Regions from separate parts of the Homo sapiens genome. Here region 2 is linked to region 1. A link means that fine-mapping ties the variant in region 1 to the expression of a gene that starts in the linked region. Tissue or cell type: NK cells. Region 1 holds a variant in brackets; the other region holds the start of a gene. All regions are shown on one strand. Distances are between the middles of the regions.

Region 1 (8,105 bases):
CTATTATTCTTAGATTTGGTCATTTAACATAATCCCAGACTTCTTGGAGGCTTTGTTCATATTTTCTTATTCTTTTTTCTTTGTCTTTGTTGGATTGGGTTAATTTGAAGACCTTGTTTTCAAGCTCTGAATTTCTTTCTTCCACTTGTTCAATTCTATTGCTGAGACTTTCCAGAGCATTTTGCATTTCTATAAGTGTGTCCAAAGTTTCCTGAAGTTTTGATTGTTTTTTATTTATGCTATCTATTTCCTTGAATATTTCTCCCTTCACCTCTTGTATCATTTTTTGGACTTCCTTACACTGGGCTTCACCTTTCTTTGGTGCCTCCCTGATTAGCTTAATAACTAACCTCCTGAATTCTTTTTCAGGTAAATCAGGGATTTCTTCTTGGTTTGAGTCCATTGCTGGTGAGCTAGTATGATTTTTCAGAGGTGTTAACCTTATTTTGTCATATTACCAGAGTTGGTTTTCTGGTTCCTTGTCATTTGAGTAGGCTCTGTCAGAGGGAAGGTCTAGGGCTGAAGGCTGTTGTTCAGATTCCTTTGTCCCATGGGGTGTTCCCTTATTATAGTACTCTCGCCCTTTTCCTATGGATGTGGCTTCCTGAGAGCGGAGCTGTAGTGATTGTTATCTTTCTTTTGGATCTAGCCACCCAGCTATTCTACCAGGCTCTGGGCTGGTACTGGCGGTTGTCTGCACAGAGTCTTGTGACCTGAACCATCTATGGGTCTCTCAGCCATGGATACCAGCATAGTATTTGGGGTGTCCTGGGTCATGCTGGTGTACTCTGCTTCCTTCAGGAGGTGTGTGGGTCCTCTTAGGCTTCCTGATTTATTCCTGCAGTTGTTCTGGAGCAAAAATTCACGATGCGAGCTTCCACATGCTGCTCTGTCTGTCGAGTCAGAGCTGCAATCTAGTCTGCCTCCCATCCACCATTATCCCCTTTTGTTCCCAATTCTGGAGGCAAGAAATCCAATCAAGGTGTTTTGAGGGCTGTGAGAGAACGCCTGTGCCAGGCCTCTCTCTTTGGCTTGTAGATGGCTGTCTTCTCCCTGTGTCTCTTCACATTGTTTTCTCACTGTGCGTCTCATTGTGGTTTTGATTTTTATTTCTCTAATGATCAGTGATGTTGTGCTTTTAAAATATGATTATTGTCTGCATGTGTATCTTCTTTAGAAACGTGTCTGTTCATGTCCTTTGCCCACTTTGTAATGGGATTGTTTGCTTTTTTTCATGTTAATTTGTTTAAGTTCCTTGTAAACTCTGGAAATTAGACATTTGTTAGATGGATAGATTGCAAAAACTTTCTCCCATTCTATAGGGTGTCTGTTCACTCTAATGATAGTTTCTTTTGCTGTGCAGAAGCTCCTTAGTTTAATTAGATCCCATTTGTCAATTTTTGCTTTTGTTGCAATTGCTTTTGGCATTTTTGTCATGAAATCTTTGCCCGTGCCTGCCTACGTCCTGCATGGTATTGCCTAAATTTTCTTCTAGGTTTTTTATACTTTTAGGTTTTACATTTAAGTCTTTAATCCATCTTGAGATAATTTTTATATATGGTGTAAAAATCGGGTTCAATTTCAATTTTTTGCATATGGCTAGTTCTTTTCCCAGCATCATTTATTAAATATGGAGCCCTTTGTCCATTGCTTGTTTTTGTCAGGTTTGTCAAAGATCACAGAATTGTAGGTGTGTAGTATTACTTCTGGGCTCTTTATTCTTTTCCATTAGTCTGTGTGTTTATTTTTGTACCAGTACCATGCTGTTTTGGTTACTATAGCCCTATAACATGGTTTGAAGGGATGTAAGGTGATTCTTCCAGTTTTCTTCTTTTTGCTTAGGATTGCCTTGGTTATATGGGGTTCTTTTTGGTTCCATATGAATTTTAAAGTAGTTTTTTCTAATTCTATGAAGAATGTTGTTGGTAGTATGATAGGAATAGCATTGAATCTGTAAATTGCTTTGGGATATATGGCCATTTTAATATTGATACTTTCTATCCATGAGCCTGGGATGTTTTTCCATTTGTTTGTGTCTTCTCTGATTTTTTAAAGTAATGTTTTATAGTTCTCCTTATAGAGATCTTTCACCTCCCTGGTTAGCTGTATTCAGAGGTATATTATTCTTTTTGTGGCTGTTATGAATGAGATTGCCTTTGTGATTTGGTTCTCCACTTGGCTGTTGTTGGTATATAGGAATGCTAGTGATTTTTGTACATTGATTTTTTTTATCCTGAAACCTTGTTCAAGTTGTTTTATCAGCTGAAGGAGCTTTTGTGCTGAGACTATCGGGTTTTCTAGATAGTTGTTGCAGCACTTTTTATTCTGATTATGGTATAAATGGATATTTTCAAGAGTTTCCTGAAGTATCTGTTGGCAATCTCAGTTATCTGGAATCCTTTGGCAAATTAGCATTGAGGATGTAGTATAATGTAATAGGACAGACAAAAAACCCCCAAAGATAACAGGCCCAGGTTCTTCCACTAGGAAAGCTACTTATACTTGGGCAGCTTATTTAACTTTTCTGAGCGTTGGGTTCTTCATGTTTACAATAAAGAGAGGACTAATTTATTTTAAAGTTCTCCAAGGATCTAAAATTTTATGCTGTCTGGAACATAATGAAATGAACATAGTGTCTTTATGTAGGGAAAAATAGTAAAATTTTTAATTAGGGGATGTGCATTGTTTTAGTCATAGTGCCATTGCACACTTAATAGACTACAGTATAGTGTAAACATAATTATATATTCACTAGGAAGCCACAAAATTTGTGTGACGTGTTTTATTGTGATACTCACTTTATGGCGGGGGTCTGGAACTGAACTGGCCCTGTCTCCAAGTATATGCGTATACTTTTGTTTAAGTGAAAATGTGAACTTCACTGTACTTTGTTACCTTTGTTGTTTTATGCAGAGGCATCTAGAATGATGAATCCTTTCCGGAAGATTTTCAGTTTACTTTTCCCAGACCCATCAGAGGAAATCACTGTTTGTGGTAGCTATATGAAATGTATTTCTTAAATTGTAAGACTTGAAACTTGAAATTACTTCTTGATCCATGGGCTATAGAATGGATGTTTTATTAGCAGGCATGAAAACAACACGAATTCTCTTGTACCTCCCCATCAGAGCTCTTGGGTGACTAGGTGCATTGTCAACGAGCTGTAATATTTTGAAAGGAATTTTATTTATTTTTTTTCTGAGTGGCAGTTCTCAAAGATGGTGTTAAGTGATTCAGTGATCCACGCTGTAAACAGATGTGCTGTCATCCAGTCATCCAGACATTGTAGTTCCATTTTTAGAGTACAGGCAAAGTAGATTTAGCATTTTTTTTTTTTTTTTTTT[G/TG]AGACGGAGTCTTGCTCTGTCGCCCAGGCTGTAATGCAGTGGCATGATCTCATTGCAACCTCCGCCTCCCAGGTTCAAGCGATTCTCCTGCCTCAGCCTCTGAAGTAGCTGGGACTACAGGTGTGCACCACCATGCCTGGCAAATTGTTTTTTTTAGTAGAGGTGGGGTTTCACCATGTTGGCCAGGCTGGTCTCGAACTCCTGACCTCAAGTTATCCGCCGGCCTCTGCCGCCCAAAGTGCTGGGATTACAGGCATGAGCCACCATGCTTGGCCCAATTTAGCATAATTCTTAAGGGCCATTGGATCTTTTGCATGGTAATTGAGCACTGGCTTCACAGATAAGACACCAGCTTCATTAGCCCCTAACAAGAGAGTCAGCCTGTCTTTCGAACTTATGCATTGACTTTTCCTTTCTAGGTATGGAATTCCTAGATGTCATTTTATTCCAATAGAAGGATCTTTCATCTACATTGAAAATCTGTTGTTTAGTGTAGCCACCTTCATCACTTATCTTAGCTAGATCTTCTGGATAACTTGCTGCAGCTTCTCCATCAGTACTTGCTGCTTCACCTTGCATTTCATGTTATGGAGATAGTTTTTTTTTTTTTTTTTTGAGGCAGGGTCTCATTCTGTTGCCCAGCATGACTCATTTCAGCTTTGACCTCCCAGCTAGCGTCATCATGGCTCACTACAGCCTTGATCTCCCAGGCTAAAGTGATCCTCTCACTTCAGTCTCCCGAGTAGCTGAGGCTACAGGTGCATGCCACCATACTAAGCTAATATTTTCTATTTTTTGTAGAGACAGGGTCTCACTATGTTGCTCAGGCTGAGACAACTTCTTTTCTTAAAGCTTGTAAACCAACTTTTCTTCTGCAGCTTCCTAACCTCTCTCAGTCTTCATAGAATTGAAGAGAGTATCTTGCTCTGAGTTAGGCTTTGGCTTAAGGGAATGCTGTGGCTGATTTGATGTTGTATTCAGACTACTATAACTTTCTCCATATCATCAGTAAGACTGTTTTGCTTTCTTATTATTTGTGTGTTCATAGGAGTAGCACTTTTTTTTCCTTTTTTTTCCTTTTTTTTTTTGAGATGGAGTGTTGCTCTGTCGCCCAGGCTAGAATGCAGTGGCAGTATCTTGGCTCACTGCAACTTCAGCCTCCTGGGTTCAAGTCATTCTTCTGCCTCAGCCTCCCGAGTAGCTGGGATTGCAGGTGCCTGCCACCACACCTGGCTAATTTCTGTATTTTTAGTAGAGACGGGGTTTCACCATGTTGGCAAGGCTGGTCTTGAATTCCTGACCTCAAGTGATCCTCCTGCCTCAGCCTCCCTAAGTGCTAGGATTATAGGTGTGAGCCACTGCACCTGGCCAGGAGTAGCACTTTTAAATTTGTTCAAGAACTATTCTTTCTCATTCACAACTTGACTCTGCAGCAAGCAGTCTTGCTTTCAGCCTGTCTCAGCTTTCAACATGCCTTCCACACTAGGTTTAGTAATTTTTAGTTCTTTTTTTTTTTTTTTGAGACAAGGACTTGCTCTCTTTCCCAGGCAAACAGAGGTGGCGCAATCCTAGCTCTCTGCAGCCTTGAACTCCTGGGGTCAAGTGATGCTCCTCTCTCAGCTTCCCAAGTAGCTCGGACTACAGGCATGTACTGCCATGGCTGGATGGCTCGTTAATTATGTTTTGTAGAGATGGAGTCTTGCCGTGTTTCCCAGGCTGGCCTCAGTCTCCTGGCCTCAAGTGATTGTCCCACCTTGACCTCCCAAAGTGCTGGGATTGCAGGTGTGAGCCACCACACCCAGCCATTTCTAGCTTTTGATTTAAAGTGAGAAACTTGAGACTCTTCCTTTCACGTGAATATTTAGAGGCCATGGTAGTGCTGGAATTGGCATAATTTCAACATTGCTGTGTCTCAGGGGATAGGGAGGAGGCCTGAGGAGAGAGAGAGAGATAGGGGAATGGTTGGTAGGTGAAGCAGTCAGAACACACACAGCATTTGTTAATTAAGTTCAATGTCTTATGCATGCATGGTTTGTGGTGCTTCAAAGCAATTACAATTGTGCCATCAAATATCACTGATTACAGATCATCATACTAGATATAATAATAATGAAAAGATTGAAATATTTTGAGAGTTACCGAAATGTGACACAGACACACAAAGTGAGCACATGCTGTTGGAAAAGTCATGCTGATAGATGTGTTCTACTCAAGGTTGCCACAAACCTTGCATTTGTGAAAAACACAGTATCTGTGAAGTGCAGTAAAGTGAAGCACAATAAAATGAGGTATGCTCGTACTCTGGCTCTTTCTATATATTGTTTCTTACAAACAAAGTATAAGTAAAGTATTGCTAGTGGCATATTGATAACAGTCAACTGGGCATCTAATAAAGAGGAGTTAGGAAAACTTTAAAATTACATAACAGGAACTTAAAAAAATCACAATAATTTGGCTTGGGCCAGTGAATTCTGGGCTGAATATCAATATTGAAGGCATTATTGTAGTGTGGCAAAGTAATGTTCATAATAATGACTGGCCAGCAGAGTAAATATTGCACTAATTTTATACCAAATGTACTTCTTTATATATCAAATGTACATCTTCTGTTTAAGAAGATATCAGGCTTATATAGTGCATTTGATATAAAACTCACCAATTTAAGGTCTGGAGACTTAAAAATACAGTCCAGGCTAGATGCAGTGGCTCACACGTGTAATCTCAGAATTTTGGGAGGCTGAAGTGGGAGGATTGCTTGAGCCCAGGAGTTTGAAACCAGCCTGGACAACATAATGAGACATAGTCACTACAGAAAATAAAAAAGTTACCTGGGCGTGGTGGCTTGTGCCTATAGTCCCAGCTACTTAAGAGGCTGAGGTAGGAGGATTACTTGGGCCAGGAGATCGAGGCTGCAGTGAGCTGTGATTGTGTCACTGCACTGCAGTCTCAAAAAAGAAAAACCAACTAAACAAAAACTTTAATTTTCTAAACATTTAAATGTATTGACTCTTTTCCTGATGCTATTACATATTAGCATATATGTTATCACCATTATATGTGCTGTTTCAGTTACGGAATCTTTCATTACCAGAGATGCAATCTGAATGATGTCTTGTTGGATTTATTATTTGTCATTTCCCAATTGCAAGTATGTAAATTACTTATCAAAGACATTTCTGTTAAATGAGAAGAACAAAGATTTCTTGAATTGATTTGTAGTAAGCTGTGTTTTTAATAATTTCTGGAAAAGGAAAGAAAGCATTTTTAGAGAAGAATTTGTTAAAATTTTAAGCCTCTCAATGGCATCCATTAGTATAATTAAAGATATTGTAGTGGCAGGCTAATCTATGTTATAAGTGATAAGAAACAAGTGCTTCTATAAACCAAAAGATTGTGTTTTTCTAAATTTTTAAGTATTTATGGGTTAATTTCTAGGGTGGTGTAGTTCGAACAGCTTTCTTGTGCTAAGATGGCAATGATTGAAAATTCACCTTCCTGGAATACATTTTTTTTTAACTGAAAACTTCAGTACAGTACAGTGTTTGTTATTCTATGTGACAGGATACCCAGAGTTATATTGACGAATGTCCTGGGAACGGAGTTAGGAAGAAAATACATAAGGACCCCACCTGTAACTGAGGGAAGTTTGAGTGATACAGACAACTTGCAATCAGAGCAACTTTCTTCATCATCTGATGGCAGCCTAGAATCTTATCAAAATCTAAACCCTCACAAGAGCTGTTATTTATCTGAAAGGTATGTTTAGTGATAACTTTACTCAAAATAATTATATTTATTTTTATGTATCCTTCCCTGTTCTTTTTCACAGATACATTATTGCTAAATGTGAGGTAAATGTGCTCTGATAGCTGGTATTATTTTTCTCCCCGGGTGGCTGGAATGGCTATTGGAACCAACAGTCCATGGCTAATAATGTGTTTCAGAAGCACTGGCCACCATACTTGTATTTTGGAAAAATGGATACAGACACTTAATGAAAATCTGGTAACCTATTTCAGTATCCCAGTTTGTCTGGTGTAATTGAAATCCATTCCTCTGACATTAGTCTATTGCCCTCTCTTTTTCTGTTCTATTTGTCCATCTATCCATCTACCCATTCAGTCTTGTCTGTTATTTTGTTTTACTTTAATTTTTTTGAGGCGGAGTCTCGTTCTGTCGCCCAGGCTGGAGTGCAGTGGCATGATCTCGGCTCACTGCAACCTCTGCCTCCCAGGTTCAAGCGATTCTCCTACCTCAGCCTCCCAAGTAGCTGGGACTACAGGCACGTGCCACCACGCCCAGCTAATTTTTTGTATTTTTTAGTAGAGACAGGGTTTCACCGTGTTAGCCAGGATGGTCTCGATCTCCTGACCTTGTGATCTGCCTGCTTCAGCCTCCCAAAGGGCTGGCATTACAGGCGTGAGCCACTGCCCCCGGCCTTGTCCGTTATTTTTATATTCAGACTCTAGAATTTTAACTAGTACTTAGTGCTCAGTAAATAGTTTTTGAATGAATGGCTGAACACATTCCTTAAAAAAATGGTTTGAGATTTTCCATTAACAAATGGAAAAGCTGAATTCCATTGACAAATGTAGCTTGTTGTGCCAATAAGAGAAATGCAGATCTGAAGTTGCCTTTGTTTTAAGCTCTAGGAGAGGATTGTGTGTGGACTGGAAATAAGAAAAAATCTGTGGCACAAAGCTAGGGATGGTCAGTTAGTACATTCTGTTAGATTTATAAACTTCCATTTGCTACAAGCTT
Region 2 (8,105 bases), 110 kb before region 1:
AACGTAAATGCGGAGTAACTCAAAACAGTGGCTTACAACTCTGGCTTATGTAAGTATCTTCAACGAAGAACAATAAATTTCTGGAGAGAAGAAAGAACAAAGGAAAGAGTTTTAGGCTTCCAAGGGTGAGAAACTGTGGGAATGTAAATCTACAGAAGGAAACTAATACAGTAAGGTTTGTTTGCAGATTCGTCTGGGGCTTTCTGGGCTGGTAAGAGCCTAGACAGAATTTATGTCCTGCCTTTTAGGCAGAAAAAGGAGAGAGCGAGCTTTCCCTCCTTAATTGCCTTCAGCTCAAAAATAATTTTTATATAAAAGAGGTATATTTTGGCCTGGCACAGTGGCTCACGCCTGTAATCCCAGCACTTTGGGAGTCTGAGGCAGGTGGATCACGAGGTCAGGGGTTCGAGACCAGCCTGGCCAACATGCTGAACCCTTGTCTCTACTAAAAATACAAAAATTAGCCAGGCATGGTGGCAGGTGCCTGTAATCTCAGCTACTCGGGAGGCTGAGGCAGGAGAATCACCTGAATCTGGGAGGCGGAGGTTGCAGTGAGCTGAGATCGTGCTATTGCACTCCAGCCTGGGCAATAAGAGCAAAACTCAGTCTCCGGGAAAAAAAAAAAAAGGCATATTTTGAGGTGACATTCTGGTTTCCTTCAATAGTTTACCTTCAAGAATAAGATTGTTAGAGCTAGAAGGGACCTTATTGATATTCTTAGCTAACATGTTTATTTTATAAATGGAGAAGTTGAGGCTTTCAAAGGTAAAGTGGCATGCCCAAAGTAACTGAGGCAGCCCAGGAGCCTGAGAGAAGATTTTTTTTCCCCTTTTTTGACTTTTATTTTAGGGTCGGGGGAATGTGCAAATGTGTTACAAGGGTAAATTTTGTGTCACTGGGGTTTGGTATACAAATGATTTCATTACCCAGGTAGCGAGCATAGTATCTGATAGGTAGTTTTACAACGCTCACCCTCCTCCCACTCCAAGATTAGTTTTTACCAAAGATTTAAAAATGCATAGTATTTGACTTTTTATTTCATTCATTTACCAAAAATTTAGTGAGGCCATTTGGTAGGCACTTTGTTTCCTATGTCAAGTACTCCAGTCGTTTTACGCAGAATAAAATTTTAAAAAAGGAGAACAGCATATACGCATTAAAGAAAATTTGAAATTAGGCTTTTCCAGTATCCTGGATTAGGTGGTGACACAGCTGTAATGACTTGTTCTAGGTGTGGTTATTTCTTAAAAAACAATTGTGAAAATATACATAACAAAATTTACCATTCTAACCATTTTTAAGTGTGCAGTTCAGAGGCATTACGTACATTCATATTGTTGTGTAACCATTACTGACATCCATCCACAGAATGCTTTTCATCTTACAAAACTGTAACTCTATACCCATTAAACAATAACTCCCCATTCTCCTCATCCTAGGCACTAGCAACCACCATTCTACTTTCGATCTCTCTGAATTTGACTTCTCTAGGTTAGGTGTGATTATCTTTAAAGAAGAGGGTGGGTGGGACACCAGAATCATAGATGCAAATAACTTTAATTAGCGTATTTGGATTTTTAAGGAACCCCTTTCCTTTCTAGGATCAAAAGTGGTTACATTTAACAATATTTACATTTTTCACAGGTGATTAGTAAGCTTTTATAAGAAGTAATTTTATAATCTGAGAAGTTAGGAAATCCCCTGGTTACAGAGTAATAATCTAATACAGTAATTATAATCCTTTTTTATATTTAGGAACAAGGTCCTTTTGTATATACCATGCCATTAAGAAGCACAGAATGGAGAATACTTTTACTCAGAATATTTAAAAATATCTAATGATACTTTTTTTTTTTTACAACGAGTAAGTTTTCATTTATTTTCATATTTAGGAAAGCAAAACAAAACAAAAAACCTCTAGAAAATATGTTTGAAAGAAAGAATACTGTTTTGGTACAAAAGCAGCACTATTTTTCTTTTCCCAACACAGAAAGCAATTATGCAGTTTTTTAGAAAAATAATAATGCCTGTATTACAATTCCATTTAGTAAATTGTAGAAAATAATAGTGGTTGTGAAATTATATCTGTAGAAATTTCAAAATAAGATGAAAGTACATAATGTCCCTCCTCACTGTTCACCTCTCCCTAGGGAACAAAAAAGTTGTATTTAATCCACCAGAGGCAAGGACACATAGAAAAAAGAATATTAGAGATAGGAAAAAGAAAAAAGCAGATGTCACTAAGTGTTGGTTTTACCAAATTGGAGTATGCAACAGAATCGTCTGGGAAGTTTATTTTTTATGTTTTTTGGAGACAGGGTATCTGTGTGTCGCCCAGGCCGCAGTACCGTGTAGCGATCATAGCTCACTGCAGCCTCAAAGTCCTGGACTCAAGTAATCCTTAAATCTCATCTTCCCCAGTAGCCGGGGACTATAGGTGTGCTCCACCGTGCCCGGGTCATTTTTTTTTTTTTTTCCGAGACAGTCTGGCTCTGTCGCCCAGGCTGGAATGCAGTGGCCTGATCAAGGCTCACTGCAACTTTTAACTCCATGGGCTTAAGTGATCTTCCTGCCTTAGCCTCTTGAGTACCTGGGACTACAGGCATGCGCCACCACGTGTGGCTAGTTTTTTTCTTTGTAGAGAGGAGGTCTCACTATATTGCCCAGGCTGGTATCAAACTCCTGGGCTCAAGGGTGAGTCATAGCATCTGGCCTGTATATTTTTGTGGAGAGGGGGGTCTTGCTTTGTTGCCCAGGATGGTCTGGAATGTCTTGGCTCAATCTATTCTGCCTCGGCCTCCCAAAGTGCTGGGATTACAGACGCGAGCCACTGTGTCCGGCCCAGCTTGACTTTAGAATCAGTTAAGTTCTTTAGTTAAAAAAGTTAATTTGGGCCAGGCGCAGTGGCTCACGCCTGTAATCCCAGCACTCTGGGAGGCTGAGGCGGGCGGATCACGAGGTCAGGAGATCGAGACCATGCTGGCTAACATGGTGAAACCCCATCTCTACTAAAAAATACAAAAAATTAGCCGGGCGTGGTGGCGGGCGCCTGTAGTCTCAGCTACTCGGGAGGCTGAGGCAGGAGAATGGCGTGAACCCAGGAGGTGAAGCTTGCAGCGAGCCGAGATTGTGCCACTGCACTCCAGCCTGGGCGACAGAGCGAGACTCCGTCTCAAAAAAAAAAAAAAGTTAATTTGTGAGGAAACTGAAAATTCAATTATTTTTCAGAAAGCAATGTTTTTGTTAAACAGAAATTAACCAAATAAAACGAAATCCTTACAGTAAACTTCAATCCCAGCAAGACTTAAAGTATTTCTGCTTTGCAGTCATTCCTGCCATGTAGAACACTTCCCCAGGCCCAACACCCCACAACACCTGGGGCCTTACCTCTACCTGGGGACTGACCACATTATAATTAAGAAGGCTTAACTCACGATGAAGGGGACTGCTCTAGTGGACGAGTTGGGCCGATCCCTTTATTGACTCCGTTAGGATGGGAGATGGGGGTTGGAGGGATAGGCGTTAGGGGTATAAAGGGGCCAGCTTGGGAATCAAACCCTACTTCCAGAGTCCCTTCGGGCTTTGAACATGCCAGAAACATTTTCCCTGCTTAGAGCACTGTGCTGAATTTTGTTAAACTTGTGATTAAATCGTCATGAAAGCTTACACGTGCATTTAAAAATTATTCAGATATGCACCATTAGGGATAATCAGGCTAATAGTACCAGACCTTGAGTTCATTGAGGACTGGATTAGTCCCTTAAGTATCGTGGTAAATGTTAATTGAACAAATTCCAAGTTTATAGCCACCCACTTTCTGTCATATCAGCATTTCAGTTATTGAAAAATTAAGTTCTAGCTTTTCTTTTAAGGAACTTTAAAAATCACAAGTTCGAATTTTAAAAAGGAATCCTAAGACATTTTTCCTCGTCTGCTGACATATTTCCACAGCAAATGCTAAACTAATAGCTAGGCTATTATTAGGTGATTTTGCCATCTTAAAATCTTTTGGTTTCTGAGTTCGAGGAAAGGCGTTGGGGGCAAATATGTAAGAGAGGCTGTGAGGGATGTAATACTGCAAACGCTAACGTTTTGTTTTCATAGTTGTTTGGCCACCTCGCGAGATCCAGTGAACCGGAGGAGTTCCTGTTTTTCCCTTTTAATTTTTGTCAATCTAATCTTCAAAGTCAACAAAGCTAAAATCGAGCACCCAGGTGGTTCACCTCCCCAGAGGGGCTCAGATCATGAAATAAACGCCACCAAAAAAACGCTGGAAGAGGCAGCCCACAGTGAAAAGTCCCAGGAAGTGATTTCCGGTCGAAGGTGGGAGGGGCGGCTGATTTCCGGTCGAAGGGCAGGCGACGGCTCTTGCGCAAGCGCGCTTCGCACTTTGCGGGCTTTTTTTTTTTTTTTTTTTTTTTTTTTTTTTTCCTTTCCCCTCCCCCTCCCTCTCCAAGCCGGAGGGGTCCTGAGGTGACAGCGCCTGCAACTGAAATTTCAGCAGCGGGAGAAGATGGACAAGAGAAAGCTCGGGCGACGGCCATCTTCATCCGGTGAGAAAGGGTCAGAGAAGGGCTGAACATATTGTCTCCTACCCGGGGGAAACGGGAGGCGCAGGCGGCAGCTGGGGTTGCGGCCCGAAGCCGCGGGGGCGAGGGCGGGGGCGGGGAGAGGAAGGGGCGCGCACAATGGAAGGCTCCCGGGTCGCCCCCGCCCCTGGAGTCGAAGACCCGGTCCGAGCTGTCATCGAAGCCTCGGGCGCTCTTCACCTCAAAACCCCTTTTATTTTTTCCCTCCTCCCGCGAACACCCTCCTTGCGTCTCATCGGCCCATGGATCTTCCCGGTTGGCTTGTCACTCTCTGCCACGCCTTCCTCGTAATTCCACCAATGTTCCAATTTCATTTCGGCTTCTCAGCGCCTGACCCCACTTTCCTCTCTTCCTTTGATTCTCGACTTTGCGTCCCTTCCCCTCTCCCTCCTCTTTCCCTCAGCAGGTAGCTGCTGCTGGGGAGGAAAGGTGGGGCTTGCGACCGGAGACTCCTTTTCTTTGATACAATGCCTCTCCGGGTCTCGTTCTGCTGAACAGGCCCGCCTAATAGCCTTTTTCTTTTCCAGCCTACCCTGCGTCTTCCAAAAGTGATTGGAAAGTCAAACAAAGGATTTGAAGCCGTGCTTTCGTTGTGTTTTTATTTTCAGCATATTTTTTGTTTTGGACGTTACTTTGTTTTAAATGACTATCTTCAGTTTTGTGTACAACGTCTTGGAAACAAGAAAGTGGAGTTATAAAAACGTGAGGTAGAGCTCCTCCCAGTTGAGAAGTTTTTATCAAACATTTCATCCATTAGGGGGTCCTCAAGTCCTTGTGTTAAGTCCTATGGATGGTAGGAGGAGAGGACGAGGACTCATATGCTTACAGTCCAGTACACAAACGAACGCCCAATGAATCAATTATTTCATTTCATTTTTCTGTTTCTGATGGTACCGTTGGTTTCTGCAGAGACAGTTAACAATTACAGATTTATTGGCCGGGCGCGGTGGCTCACGCCTGTAATGCCAACACCTTGGGAGGCCGAGGCGGTCGGATCACAAAGTCAGGAGATCGAGACCATCCTGGCTAACATTGTGAAACCCCGTCTCTACTAAAAAATGCAAAAAATTAGCCGGGCGTGGTGGCGGGCGCCTGTAGTCCCAGCTACTCAGGAGGCTGAGGCAGGAGAATGGCGTGAACCCGGGAGGCGGAGCTTGCAGTGAGCCGAGATCGCACCACTGCACTCCAGCCTGGGCAACAGAGCGAGACTCTGTATCAAACAACAACAACAACAAAAAAAAAACAAAAAAAACCAATTCCAAATTTATTTAGGAGTGCCCTGTGGCAGTGCATCTCAAACTGCTTTCAGCCTTAATTGCAAAGGAGAGTGATTATGGATCTCTGGGGACACTGCTTGAAGCAGTTGAAAACCTGAAATCCCTTTTCATATGCAACCAATGTTATCGATGTTCTTGGTGTATATTCTGGAGATAATAGTTTTTTCCTTTGAAAGCACATGTATAAATGATATATATGTATATTTATACATACATGTAGGTATATGCCTCCAACTGATGAGTGTTTTAATAGTCTCCACCCCCCACCAAACCTCTAAGTAAAATGGACACATTAGGAAAACGCACAATGCTTAGCTGGTGTCATTTGCGGGCTTCCTAACACAGAACTTTAGGTGTGATCATATCTTCCTTTGAGATGCACAACCTTTTTTAAATAAATGCATTTCATCTAGGTTTAATACATTTTTGAGGAGGGAAGGTAAGATATTTGCCTTGTAATTCAACAAGTCACGTTCCTTTTTACCTGATTACACTTAGATTTATTTATTTGTCACAGTAACTTGATGTAAGTAGTTGTGGGAAGTGGATTTTGATAATAAAGCTGTTAATCCTTAAAAGACATTGATATTTACGTTAGTTATATCTCTAGAGAGCGTTTTCTTTTTCTCGTGATCTCTCTTTTGGAGCTGTCCTTTCTGAAAAGTAAGGTATAATAAAATCCATACCCAAATCTAATGTTACCTAGCTGTTCTCCAGTATGCCTCTAGTTTTAAGATGTGCACTAATTAATTTTTAAGTATGCTTCTGCTTTTCTTAATAGCGTATATTTAATTTCCTGAATAAATTCTCAGAAATAAAACATTGGCTGGTTGAAAGATTCCGTGTAGTGGTTGTAGGCATGCAGTTGCCATTTCATTGTAAGTTGTTGCTAACTGGAACCCAAATGAAGTGACTTTTTTTTTTTTTTTTTTTTGAGATGGAGTCTCGCTCTGTTGCCCAGGCTGGAGCGCAGTGGCACAATCTACCACCCCTGCCTCCCAGGTTCAAGCGATTCTTCTGCCTCAGCCTCCCTAGCAGCTGAGATTACAGGTGCCTGTCACCATGCCCGGTTAATTTTTGTACTTTTAGTAAAGATGGGGTTTCACAATGTTGGCCAGGCTGGTCTCAAACTCCTGAGCTCAGGTGATCCACTTGCCTCGGCCTCCCAAAGTGCTGGAATTACAGGCGTGAGCCACCGTGCCCGGCCATGAAGTGACATTTATAGTCATCAAAGTTTCCTAAGTATGCAGAAGAGTTTGATTAATAAAACAGGAAGAAGAGGTAGAAGGAAGGTGGGTAGCAGTAGAAAGATAAAATAAAACACAAAATTTGAAGTTTTATCTGTGAGACTACATTAGGCTGCCCTAAACTTTCTGCTAAACAAGGAAGAACTGTAAAATGTTCACAGTGTACCGCTCAAAACTTTTTCAGTTGCAAGTAGCAGAAACCCAATTCCAGATGGTTTAAGCTAAACACATGTATTTGTAACTCATGTAACTGATAACTATACCATTTAAAGCAGTATATTAGATGGTGATACACATTAAAAAACGGCTGGCATCAGAGACAGGTTCACTGAAGTTGAATGATAAAGTGTCTGGGAGCAAGGGAGAATGACCATTAAAAGTGTTAAACAACAAAAATACAGCACAGATAAATTAGAATCATAGACTGCAATTTTCAAGTGAATTTTTGAATCAAAATAGGAAACGTCAAGTAAATTTGAACCAGTTTTCAACTGATTGCTTCAGGCAACATTCTTGGAGGCCTGTGTCACTCTCATTTGTAGTTAAGGATAACGTATGTTCTTTAAGTACTTAGGCACTAGACATTGTGCTAAGAACTTCACAAACTTCAATATTTTCAAAAGCCTTATAAGGTAATTGTTTTTCATTTACAGATGAGAAAACCGGGATTTAGGGGCAGGATAAAGATTAGTAATAGCTAGTAAGGAACAGAATTCAAAATGTGGTCTCTAATTACAAAATCTATAGTTTTAACTTCATTTACTGCTACTAGTGTCCCTGATGGTATAACTTTCTTAAATCTTTCAGTAGGTCCAGGTGATGTTTGCTTTGCATTGAAAGTGTAATGAATGATAATTGAAGCTCAAGATGAGAACTTAACGATTAGTTATGATAAAGCTGCATTATTTGCAGCAATCTTAGTTGAAGTCATTGGAATGAATGGAATTGCCCACAAAAAATAGTATAGAGTGAGGAAGGTCTTAAATCACATA

The links. PIP is the estimated chance that this variant, and not a neighbour inherited with it, causes the effect.
Region 2: SENP7 starts here. The variant in region 1 is fine-mapped to the expression of SENP7 in NK cells (Schmiedel 2018, PIP 0.95).

The regions. Positions count from the first base shown.
Region 1 is chr3:101,397,856-101,405,960 of GRCh38, reverse strand. SENP7 (SUMO specific peptidase 7) reads left to right here. Exons shown (of 24, transcript NM_020654.5): 6 at 6,906-7,100. Among named protein-coding and RNA genes, the nearest start is that of IMPG2, 81 kb to the right of the region's middle. The variant G/TG (reference allele first, on the strand shown) is at 3,345.
Region 2 is chr3:101,509,539-101,517,643 of GRCh38, reverse strand. SENP7 (SUMO specific peptidase 7) reads left to right here and starts at 4,432. Exons shown (of 24, transcript NM_020654.5): 1 at 4,432-4,553. The coding sequence starts at 4,514.